Homo sapiens: one gene and its partners. The protein of the gene in region 2 purifies or fractionates together with the protein of the main gene of each other region. This does not show direct contact. Each region holds a gene or a part of one and is shown on either strand. Other genes may lie near its edges.

What was found. The genes of interacting proteins can lie anywhere in the genome.
Region 1: the proteins of EXOC2 (region 2) and SPTBN2 fractionate together in Homo sapiens (co-fractionation; one large-scale study listed by BioGRID). This does not show direct contact.
Region 3: the proteins of EXOC2 (region 2) and RUBCN purify together in Homo sapiens (affinity purification with western blotting, with the first as the bait; one study listed by BioGRID). This does not show direct contact.

What each region holds. Positions count from the first base shown.
Region 1 is NC_000011.10:66,701,717-66,705,216, forward strand, and holds part of SPTBN2 (spectrin beta chain, non-erythrocytic 2), read right to left. Parts: coding exon 2,882-3,500; intron 6-2,881; coding exon 1-5. UniProt on the Homo sapiens protein: Probably plays an important role in neuronal membrane skeleton.
Region 2 is NC_000006.12:629,848-635,085, reverse strand, and holds part of EXOC2 (exocyst complex component 2), read left to right. Parts: intron 1-1,968; coding exon 1,969-2,145; intron 2,146-5,124; coding exon 5,125-5,238. UniProt on the Homo sapiens protein: Component of the exocyst complex involved in the docking of exocytic vesicles with fusion sites on the plasma membrane.
Region 3 is NC_000003.12:197,730,405-197,733,904, forward strand, and holds part of RUBCN (run domain Beclin-1-interacting and cysteine-rich domain-containing protein), read right to left. Parts: intron 1-3,500.

The sequences.
Region 1 (3,500 bases), on a different chromosome or scaffold from region 2:
CGAACCTGAGAGGGTGGAAGAGCCAGGCGTGAATTGTGGGAGGCAGCGATGTGCCCAGTCCACCTAAGTCCACCTCTCTTAAACACCCAGGAGGGTGTCTCCTTCACCAGGAGGCTTATCTGCAGGAGTCTCTCTGCCTCTCAGCCTATGAGGTTCATAGTATCTGTGCATCAAGGAAGGAACCCACAACTCCCCCAAAACAAGCAGAATAACTGTCATCGCTAGAAATGCTCAAAAGATGGTGAAAGGTAAAGGTCAGGAACAGACACACAAGTCAAACTAGACCCTGGCATGGGGCCAACCCTTTATCAGAGCTGCTCAGCCTCCTGGGACTTCCCCCTTAGCTGCCTATCTGGGTCTCATCCCACTAATATGTGTTAGAAAATGAAGTAATAACCAAAAATATTTGTCTGAGTGATGAAAATGTGAAGGATAACTTCTTCCAGGGACATTTTATGTTTTGTTTTTGAGATGGAGTCTCGCTCTGTCACCCAGGCTGGAGTGTAGTGGTGCAATCTCGACTCACTGCAACCTCCGCCTCCCGGGTTCAAGCAATTTTCTGCCTCCGCTTCCCGAATAGCTGGGATTACAGGTGCCCGCCACCAAGCCTAGCTAATTTTTGTATTTTTGGTGGAGACGGGTGTTTCACTATCTTGGCCAGGCTGGTCTTGAACTCCTGACCTCATGCTCCACCCGCCTTGGCCTCCCAAAGTGCTGGGATTACAGGCGTGAGCCACCTCGCCTGGCCGACATTTGATGTTCTAATAGGGCAGGGTCTGCAAATGTTTTCTGTGAAGGGCTTGATGGTAAATATTATAGGCTTCGTGAGCCATGCAGCTGCTGCGGCAACTATTCAGCCCTGCTGCTGTAGCCTGAAAGCAGCCACGGGCAATACGCAAAAGGGCGAGTGTAGCTCTGTTCCAGTAAAACTTTATTTACAGACCGGGCATGGTGGCTCACGCCTGTAATCCCAGCACTTTGGGAGGCTGAGATGGGTGGATCACAAGGTCAGGAGATCGAGACCATCCTGGCTAACACGGTGAAACCTCGTCTCTACTAAAAATACAAAAAATTAGCCAGGTGTGGTGGCGGGTGCCTGTAGTCCCAGCTACTTGGGAGGCTGAGGCAGGAGAATGGCGTGAACCCGGGCGGCGGAGCTTGCAGTGAGCCAAGATTGTGCCACTGCACTCCAGCCTGGGGGACAGAGCAAGACTCCGTCTCAAAAAAAAAAAAAAAAAAAAAAACCAAAAAAAACTTTATTTACAGAAACAGGCAGCAGGCTGGATTTGGCCCAAGGGTTGCAGTTTGTTAACCTCTACATTAGGATACCTTGAAAACTAAAAAAAATCTTTAATTACATTTTTATTTTTATTTATTTTTTTGAGACAGGGTCTTACTCTGTCACCCAGGTTGGAGTGCAGTGGCACGATCTCAGCTCACTGCAGCCTCGACCTCTGGGCTCAAGCAATCCTCCTGCCTCAGCCTCCCCAGTAGCTGGGACTACAGGCGCCTGCCACCATGCCTGGCTAATTAAAAAAAAAATTTTGTAGAGGTGGAGTCTCACTATGTTGCCCAGGCTGGTTATGAACTCTTGGAATCAAGTGATACTCCTGCCTTGGCCTCCCAAAGTGCTGGGATTACAGGTGTGAGCCACCAGGCCTGACCTAATTATATTTTTTTAAACACCAGGAAATTTGATTACACATTGATCATAGATCATATCAAGAAATTCCTGACCCGGCGCAGTGGCTCATGCCTGTAATCCCAGTACTTTGGGAGGCCAAGCCGGGTGGATCACGAGGTCAGGAGATCGAGACCATCCTCGCTAACATGGTGAAACCCTGTCTCTACTAATAAAAAAATACAAAAAATTAGCTGGGCATGGTGGTGGGTGCCTGTAGTCCCAGCTACTTGGGAGGCTGAGGCAGGAGAATCGCTGGAACCCGGGAGGCAGAGCATGCAGTGAGCCGAGATCGCACCACTGCGCTCCAGCCTGGGTGACAGAGTGAGACTCCATCTCAAAAAAAAAAGAAATTCCTAATTTTGTTCTATGTGATAATGGTATTGTGGTTCTATAAAAAAATTTTTAAGATTTATTATTGAATAAATGATTTGAAGATTTATTCTGTAAATAAAACTATTTTAGTGTCTCTGTCTAAAAGGTTTATAACTTCAAAGCCTCAGCTATTTTAAGTCCACACAGACAATTTGAAAATAATATATTGTAGGTAAGAATGCTTCCTCGTATTTCTTTTCTTTTTTTTTTTTTTTTTTTTGAGACAGTCTCGCTCTGTCGCCAAGGCTGGAGAGCAGTGGCACGATCTCGGCTCACTGCAAGCTCCGCCTCCCAGGTTCATGCCAGTCTCCTGCCTCAGCCTCCCGAGTAGCTGGGACTACAGGCGCCCCCCACTGTGCCCGGCTAATTTTTTGTATTTTTAGTTGAGACAGCGTTTCACCATGTTAGCCAGGATGGTCTCGACCTCCTGACCTCGTGATCCGCCTGCCTCGGCCTCCCAAAGTGCTGGGATTACAGGTGTGAGCCACCGTGCCCGGCCGCTTCCTTGTATTTCTTAAAGGGCACACCCTGAAGAAGGTAGGAGGGATGTGCTAATCTTGGGGATTTGCTTTTTAAAAGGGCAGAGAACCAAATAGAGCAAGATGTTGGCAATGACTGAATCTGGGTGACGGGTGTAGAGGGGTTTGTGGTGAAATGTCTCTACTTGTGAGTATGGTTAACATTTTTTGTTAAAACTAGAAATGGACAACCATTAAGACTCAAAGGGGTGAGGCAGGAAGTTTATGGAGGGACTCACCACCCACATCCTGGCCCCCCCACCCCCACCTCCCAAGGCTGGTCCCACTAGGAGCCTGAGGGGCCTACCTCTGCTGCACGACCTCCAGGTCCTCCAGGCGTTCAGGCAGGGCCAGCCCGTTGAGCCACTGCTCCTTCTCCTCCACCCAGAGTCCACAGGCCCCGGCCTCGCTGAGCATGGTGTAGAGCGCCAGGGCTGCCTCCAAGGCCCGCGCTCGCTCGCCTGCCCGGGCCTGCAGCTCCTCGTAGTGCCGCTCCAGGGTGGGCACCCGGCTCTGCACCTCGGGCGTGCGGCTCAGTGTGGGGGGCAGGGCTGCTGCCTGTTCCCTCAAGGCGTCCAGGGTTGGCCGGTGGCTTCGAATCTCCTCCTCCAGGGCCCGATGCTGCCTGGCTAGAGCCTGCGTGGAGAACTCGTCGTGCCCCAGCTCGGGGCTGGACACCAGGCGCAGTGCGTCAACCAACCAGGCCTCCATGTCGTTTGCATCGGCCTGGAACTGGTAGAGGCTGGCGGCTTGGGCCAGCCGCTGGGCACGCTCCTCGGCCAGGGCCTCTAGCCGCTCCCACTGGGCTTGGAGTTCAGCTGCACGGGCAGAGGCCTGGCTTGCCCCAGGGTGACCCTCGGCCACCAACTGCTGGCCCTGCTCCAGGGTGAGCTTCAGGGGCCCCAGCCGGCCGCTCATCTCGCCCC
Region 2 (5,238 bases):
AAAATCTGATATTAAAATACTTAAAAATATTAAGTTGTCTGTTGACCTGGAGTGATACCAAAATACCTACTGTCAATAATTAAGCAGGTTATACATTGAAACAGTTGTTTAAAAAACATATAGACTGGTTTTTATATGCACAGAATCACTTGAGCAAGTGAACATTGACATGTTAGCAGTATTTCTCTCGCGAGGTGGAGTTTGGAGAGGCTTTCAATCTCTTAAGTTATTTAAGTTTTTCATAACAAAAATTATTAGAAAAAATATCAAAGACATGCCCATTTTGAAAAAAATAATTTTGAATAATGAATATATTTAAAAATGTGTTATTATAATTAAAATATACCAGTAGAAACCATAGTCCTGAGGAAACCTTTTAATGCCATTATTAGAAAAACAAAGTTGCAGACATTAGTGAATTATAGGTATTTTAGAGAAACCCCTAAAATTCATTATTTCAAGCAATGTATCTTTAAAGCATAGTTGCTTTTATTCCTTTATGGTTTAACATTCTTACTAAATAGTTCTTTAAGTTGGAACAAAAGATGATTTGACTTTGTGCCTCCATTTTAAAGTCAGATTTGGCATTAGGTGATATATTTCTGGTATCTGAAAAAAAGCCGAAAGAAAACATTGCCATTGCTAAACCTTAGTGCTGAACATTATAGAAAGTTAAATAATGAGAAAAAGTGTGAAGTGTCTGCCGGGCATGGTGGCTCACACCTGTAATCCTAGCACTTTGGGAGGCCAAGGCAGGTGGATCACTTGAGGCCAGGAGTTCGAGACCAGCCTGACCAGCATGACGAAACTGTGTCTCTAAAAAAAATACAAAAACAAAACAACAACAAAAAAACTAGCCGAGCGTGGTGGTGCTCACCGGTAGTCCCAGCTGCTTGGGAGGCTGAGGCTGGAGAATTGCTTGAGCGTGGGAGATGGAGGTTGCATTGAGCCAAGATCACGCCACTGCATTCCAGCCTGGGCAACAGAGCAAGACCCTGTCTCAAAAAAAAAAAAGAAAACGTCAAGTGTCTGTGTCTGTGCCACATACATTCTGGTTTCTTTTCTCCATAAATATTAATTACATTGGTCTCTGTTTTGTGGAAATGGAAAATCTAAAGGAAGTAAGTTGGAAGGCTAGCTGACCAGTGTGGTGCCATGCTGGTATTCCCCCTGAGGTGTGTGCCTTACTCACTGCATCTTTCAGTGCCTCTCTGTTTGGTTATTACCTAAATTTTGTTTTACATGGTATGAGGGAGGTGACATCATGAGTTGACCTTCTGGGAGTGTAGGTTTACTGTAAGAGCAGAATGTAGTGTAGTGACAGTTTCATTAGGAAAGCACTAGGGCAGGAGGAACTACTATGCCAGCAGCTGACACACCGATGTAAAAGTGAGATGGTAATCCAGTAATGCCTGAGCACACTTCACTAGATTACCTGACTCTTGGTTATGCTTAAATAAAAAACCTACTTTAGTTCATTCTGTAATGCCATGTATAAGTGAACACTAGAAAAAGCACGTGAAGATTTGTCTCAGGAAGATGGGTGAATGTAGAATGTTTTTAGAAAATGATACATACGTTTATTAATACACTTTAAAATTCTATGTTAATAACTGAGACTTCAAATAATAGCAGTAGTTTCCCTTTTATTACCTCTGAAAGCATTTTAAGATTCTCGTAATCTAAGTAATCTGGAATTCCTGCAACATAGTTGTTGTGGTGTTCGTTTTCTAATTCTACGGATGTTTGAAGAAACTCAAATGTAGCCTAAAAGAAGTCTTAAATATTGGAGAAAAAAACAGGTAAGAGGAAAAGTCAATAGAGATAACAGTATATCTGCAAATAATATTGGGTATATTCAATAATGTCATTATTGAACAAGACTAGATTTAAAAAATGTAATCTACACGATTAAGGTCTTATTGTTCTTGTCTTTGAATTTTGTTATGCACATGCGTTTATTTTCAGGCTTGACCATTTGTGGACATAATTGCCTCCTGACGGCAGAATGGATGTCTGCAAGTAAAATAGTATGTCGAGTGGGACAAGCCAAAAATGACAAAGGAGACATTATTGTCACCACTAAGTCAGGTGGCAGAGGAACCTCAACAGTCTCTTTCAAGCTACTCAAACCTGAGAAAATAGGTAAAGTCTTTCATGGGTTTATTCTAAAGAAGAAAGTAAAAATGAGTTTGTCTTTTAAGCTGTAAAGCTGGTAGATTCGTGTAAAACCTACCTACTTGCATATCTCAACTTAGATTTAGTTTATGTTTATTTTGACAGGATTGGGATGTTGGTTAATATTTGTGTTACTTTCGGGAAGGCAGTGTGCTGAGGTAACAGTCAGTGAAGCCTAAGGATGACGGTCGTATGAGAACTACTCTTCTCAGTTCTTAAAATCTGTTCGTTCACTTGATATACCAGTTTTGGTTCCTTGATCTTGAATATAATGACATTGCTTTAAACTCTTAAACAAGGTTTGAGGTGAAAAATCCTGATTTGGCCAAATTAGTAATAATATATCTAAATAATATTCCCTTTTCCTTCATTTTATCCATCCTTCAAGGCCCAGATGATACATTTCCTAGCTTGGCTGCTTTTAACGCCCCTGTTAGTAATACTCACTCTTCTTTGAACCACATAGCACTTTGTTTTCCTTCTTTATGCGCTGACCACTTGCTGCCTTCCGTTAGCAGTGTTAGGAACTTGCTGCCTTACGTTAGCAGCGTTAGGAACTTGGTCTGAGAAGTCATGCTCTTTGAATTCTAACCTGGACTCTCTTACCATGACTGAGTATGTAACTTTAATACCTTCTTTATCCATGAGCAAAAGTGGAATATATTGGCTACCTCATAGGATTGGGTGAGTTAGAACATAAATGTAAAGTGCTTAGCATAGTCCCTTACCCAGCAAATTAATAATTTCTGATGATCTTTCTTGTAGCTATTTCTGTGCATGTCTCTTTCCCTTTTTAGAATAAGAGTAATGTCAGATTCATCTTTGTGGTCCTGTAATGTCTTGCACCTGGTCAGCATTTGATAAATATTTGTATAATGTAGGAATATCAGAGGCGTAATTAAACCCAGCCAGTACTTCTCTTTATAAAGAAAATAAATAATTTTGCAAATTGTTTTTTTAATCTTAGAGCATAGAGGCTTTCTGCAGCATTGTTCTCCACAAATTCCTAGATTATTTTTATAAATAAAAATTCAAGGAATTTCAGGGAAAATTCAGAGTGGACTTTATATATGTACATGTACGTGCATGTGTACATATATACATATATAACATTTCTATTTTTGTTTACTCTTTTTATTTAGTGTCTTCAAAAACTAAACTGAAACTAAAGCAGGAACTTGTTGTACAGTTTTCTAGAGGGACTTAAACATTTTGATAAAAATCTAATATCTTATGATCTATTTATATAGCAGATAAAGAAAACTTAGGCAAAAGTGGTAATTTTATTATTCTGGAATACTCATTCCAGGACCTAGCACATAGTAGGCTTAGTAAAGGTTTCTTTTTTTTTTTCTTTTTGTTTTGAGACAGAGTCTTGCTCTGTCGCCCATGCTGGAGTGCAATGGCGCGATCTCAATCTTGGCTTACTGCAACCTCCGCCTCCCAGGTTCAAGCAATTCTCCTGCCTCAGCCTCTGCAGTAGCCGGGATTACAGGTGCGTGCCACCATGCCCAGCTAATTTTTGTATTTTTAGTAGAGATGGGGTTTCACCATGTTGGTCAGGCTGGTCTCGAACTCCGGACCTTGTGATTCGCCCACCTCGGCCTCCCAAAGTGCTGGGATTACAGGTGTGAGCTACTGCACCCGGCCAGTAAAGCTTTCTTGAACTGAACTCAAGAGTGCCTGGACTTGAGCAGAAGCCCCTGTTGCATGCTGGCAGAACCACGAGTGCTGAGAGAATGAGTGGGTTCATAGAGGGCCTTGCAGCTACAGGTTGCCTGGTATTCAGACAGCCTTCTCCCATGAAGCCTTCTGATCCTCGCCTGGGGAGGCAGGCACGCTTTGTCTGTGCTCCCTGGCACTTGGCTCTTTTTCTGTTGCAGCCCAGGGCCTTGGAGGCCTAGCTGGTAAGCCCTGTGCTAGGTTGAATGATAACGGAGTTCAGTCCCATAAAGGAAGATGCTGTTTTTAGAGCTTATGTTGTCTTGTTCACAGGGTCCACACCCAGTCAGTTTTCCCTGAATAACCTGGTTATTTCCATTATACAAGCCATGCGTTCCTTGAAAGGTGTTTGATTTAATCGTTAGATATTTTATTGAATTTACCAAATTGATTTCAGCCTAATACGGAAAAAAATCCCTGCTGTTTCTACCATCTAGGACATTTCCAGCACTGATAACAGCAAAAAGAATGAGAAATAGCAAGTAGCATATTATTTTTGCATAACTATTCATGAAAACATGCCAGAGTTTGTAGAGGAAAAGAAAATAAAAGATATTTCTTGAGAGCTTTCAAGAACCATTTAAAAAACATTTGGTTTTCATTTGTAGTGAAATGTCCTTAGGTAGCTTATGGAACCCAGAAGCAGAAACTCACAGTATTAAATATAAAATCATATATGCATAATGGTTTTTCGGCATTTATCATAAACCAGAAGCTTTCCACTGAGCTAACATTTTACTCGAATGTTTTGTGCTTGGATATTTCCCAGACATTTTCCAAGAGTTTACATGATTTCAGAATATTCTCTTGAATAAACAGATATTATAGGTCATATTATTTCATCTTACTGACTTTCTGAATTTTTTGTGCAGATTTAATCAGCTACATTTAACAATGTTTAATTGTAGTGTTTATTATTTGTAAAATATGTTTGTTATTGCAAAACTTTGTCTAAGCAGCTTAATTTGTCTTCTCTGTTGAGTAATGTACAATGAAACCATAAGCTGAGAGGTGTAATTTTTGCCTTTTTATAAATTTTTTTAGTGCTTATAATTAAACTACTAGTCATTTTTTAAAAATTTAGCTGTTATGTCCTCAAATCTCTTAAAGATTATCCAACAGGCATTTTGTATTAGGTCTTTAAGAAGTCAGACAATAGGCCAGACGTAGAAGGTGCCTGGGGTAGGCTTCATCTTATTAAGCATATGCTCCTCATTTCTGTAGGCATTTTGGATCAGTCTGCTGTGTGGGTTGATGAAATGAATTATTATGATATGCGCACTGACAGGAACAAAGGAATTCCGCCCTTGTCCTTACGTCCTGCTAACCCGCTTGGCA
Region 3 (3,500 bases), on a different chromosome or scaffold from region 2:
TCTTGTTGCTGGTATTGCTAAGCTTGGAGTTGCTATGGTAACCTGTAGAATAGTCTACCTGAGAATGAAAACAACACATCTGGAAGCAGAGCCCAGAGACAGAGACAAATTCTTAATTTGAACACCCATATTTGGGCATTTCTGAAGCAACAGTACACCCTAGATTTTTTTTTTTTTTTTTTGAGAGAGAAAGTGGGACCAGGGGGCCATCACGAGTGTGGATGCTGTGCCAAGGCCCGGAGCTCTGGGAGCCCACACCATTTATTGATGATCAAACAAAGAAACAGGTGGTGAGGATGTGGGGGTTGAAAGGAAACAGTGTATCAAGTGAATGAGAAACATATGGCTGCTTGAGATAATGGGAGTGCTAGAAGCAAGGAGCCAGCAAGTCTAGCAGACATGCAAGCCCTGCATCAGCTTCTCTCCCAACACTCAGCTTTTCTCATTAAAATATCTTTTTTTTTCATATTTTAAAAGCATCTTTTTTTTTTTTTTTTTTTTTTTTTTTTTTACAGTTTCAACTATTTATTCAACACCTTAGTGAACATCTGCTCAGTGCGGGCATTATTATGTGTTAACTAGAGGTTTTTTGTTTTTGTTTTTGTTTTTATTGATCATTCTTGGGTGTTTCTCGCAGAGGGGGATTTGGCAGGGTCACAGGACAATAGTGGAGGGAAGGTCAGCAGATAAACAAGTGAACAAAGGTCTCCGGTTTTCCTAGGCAGAGGACCCTGCGGCCTTCCGCAGTGTTTGTGTCCCTGGGTACTTGAGATTAGGGAGTGGTGATGACTCTTAAGGAGCATGCTGCCTTCAAGCATCTGTTTAACAAAGCACATCTTGCACCACCCTCAATCCATTCAACCCTGAGTGGATACAGCACATGTTTCAGAGAGCACAGGGTTGGGGGTAACGTCACCGATCAACAGGATCCCAAGGCAGAAGAATTTTTCTTAGTACAGAACAAAATGAAAAGTCTCCCATGTCTACCTCTTTCCACACAGACACGGCAACCATCCGATTTCTCAATCTTTTCCCCACCTTTCCCCCGTTTCTATTCTACAAAACCGCCATTGTCATCATGGCCCGTTCTCAATGAGCTGTTGGGTACACCTCCCAGACGGGGTGGTGGCTGGGCAGAGGGGCTCCTCACTTCCCAGTAGGCGCGACCGGGCAGAGGCGCCCCTCACCTCCCGGATGGGGCGGCTGGCCGGGCGGGGCCTGACCCCCCCACCTCCCTCCCGGACGGGGCGGCTGGCCGGGCAGAGGGGCTCCTCACTTCCCAGTAGGGGCAGCCGGGCAGAGGCGCCCCTCACTTCCCGGATGGGGCGACTGGCCGGGCGGGGGGCTGACCCCCCCACCTCCCTCCCGGATGGGGCGGCTGGCCGGGCGGGGGGCTGACCCCCCCACCTCCCTCCGGGACAGGGCGGCTGGCCGGGCAGAGTGGCTCCTCACTTCCCAGTCACCCTAGATTTTTTAGTACTATAAGCCATTATATTTGGAAATGGAGAGAAAAAGAAGGCTTCAAAAGAAAAATTAGGAACAGAATTTTAGACCCTGGTGACTGCTTACATATGGGAAATAGAGAAGAGCGAAATGTCAAATGTCACTCTGACGCTCTGGCATGTTGAGTGAGTGGAAAATGCTATTAACAGAGATCAGAGGAGGGGCAGGTTTTGGTCAGTGGAATAAGCTTAGTTTGGAGATGCTAAAACGGATCTTACTCCTTGAATTCTGACTGTACCTGGATCACGGTGCCAGGAGCACTGAGCAGTACATGTACCTGAGCTGCAAGCTCAGCAGTAGACTGCATGGCCAAGGCAGTCTAGGGAGACAGTACACTGCATGGCCAAGGCGGTCTAGGGAGACAGAGCAATGCCAGAAAGACCATTCCTTTAGCAGTTTACCAGTCTAGTAGTTTGGGTATTTTTGAGACGAGTCTCACTCTGTCTCCCAGGCTGGAGTGCAGTGGCGTGATCTCGGCTCACTGCAAGCTCCGCCTCCCGGGTTCACGCCATTCTCCTGCCTCAACCTCCCCAGTAGCTGGGACTACAGGCGCCTGCCACCACGCCTGGCTAATTTTTTGTATTTTTAGTAGAGACGGGGTTTCACTGTGTTAGCCAGGATGGTCTCGATCTCCTGACCTCGTGATCCACCCACCTTGGCCTCCCAAAGTGTTGGGATTACAGGCGTGAGCCACCGTGCCCAGTGTAGTGTAGTAGTTTTACCAGGCAACCTCAAAATAACTGGCATTTAGGAAACGGAGGGAAAGTGAAGTATCATCCCTAAGCCCCAGAGCATCTGGCTGGAGTGATAGCTAGACGGAAAACAATAGGGAAGCCCATCACCTAAGCACACTACCGGGGAAGTGGGAAGCTAAGCCAACACTCTAGGTCCCAATGTGTTCAACTCGGATGAAGGAGCCACTGAAAGAGGAAGAACAAGTGATACCCTTGCAAACAGTCACTTGTGGGGGAGACCCTCGCCTTATTTCAAAAAAACTAGCAAGGGGTGGATTCGACATTTTTCCTACTTCCTACGTATCAGGCTCTCAGGAGCTTTATGCACATTGTTTTATTGAATCCTCAGAACTTCTCAGGCAGGAAAGCATTATTCTTCCTACTCAGGCAGGTTACGTAAAGTAACTTGATCAAGTTAAGCCAAATTAATCCGTGAACTAGGATTCAAATGCAGGTCTGACTTTAAAGCTTATTCACGTTTCATTATATCAACTACTTAAGGAAAATACACTGAAAAGTTTCATCCTTCATTTTTAAAATGACACTACCGGCTGGGCACAGTGGCTCATGCTTGTAATCCCAGTGCTCTGGGAGGCCAAGGCAGCAAGATCCCTTGAGGCCAGGAGTTTGAGACTGGCCTAGGCAACATGGTGAGACTCTGTCACTACAAAAAATCTGAAAAAATTAAAAATTAGCTGGGAGTGGTGGCACACACCTGTAGTCCTAGCTACTGAGGAGGCTGAGGTGGGAAGATCACCTGAGCCCAGGAGTTTGAGGCTGCAGTGAGCTACGATTGCACTATTGTACTCCAGCCTGAGTGACACAGTGAGACCCTATCTTTAAAATATATAAATAAATAAATAAAAATGATGCTATCTCATCAAGAAGACTGTTTCTGAACTGGGTATTTCATTGGCCATAGAAAGGTTATGTTTGCAGTAACCCAGTCACAAAGCCTCAATTAATAGGCACAAGGAATGTGTATTTACCAGTTGTGTATCTGGAGCTAAGGAGGCCATCAGTACCATGAAGCCTCATTAAACAACGCATTCTGAATTAATCAGCCGCCAACACAGTATGCCTATAACAATGACGGGAGTGACTTTGTGAGGATAACCCCACTACTAAAATTAAGTTTTGATTAAAGTTTTTTGGTTAAGAGGCAATCATAAAAAGAATAAAAGACGGGAAAAGATTCTGCAAAGGAGCTATCCTACTGGCCTGAATGACAGGCACAGAATGCTGTGAAATTTATTCACTATC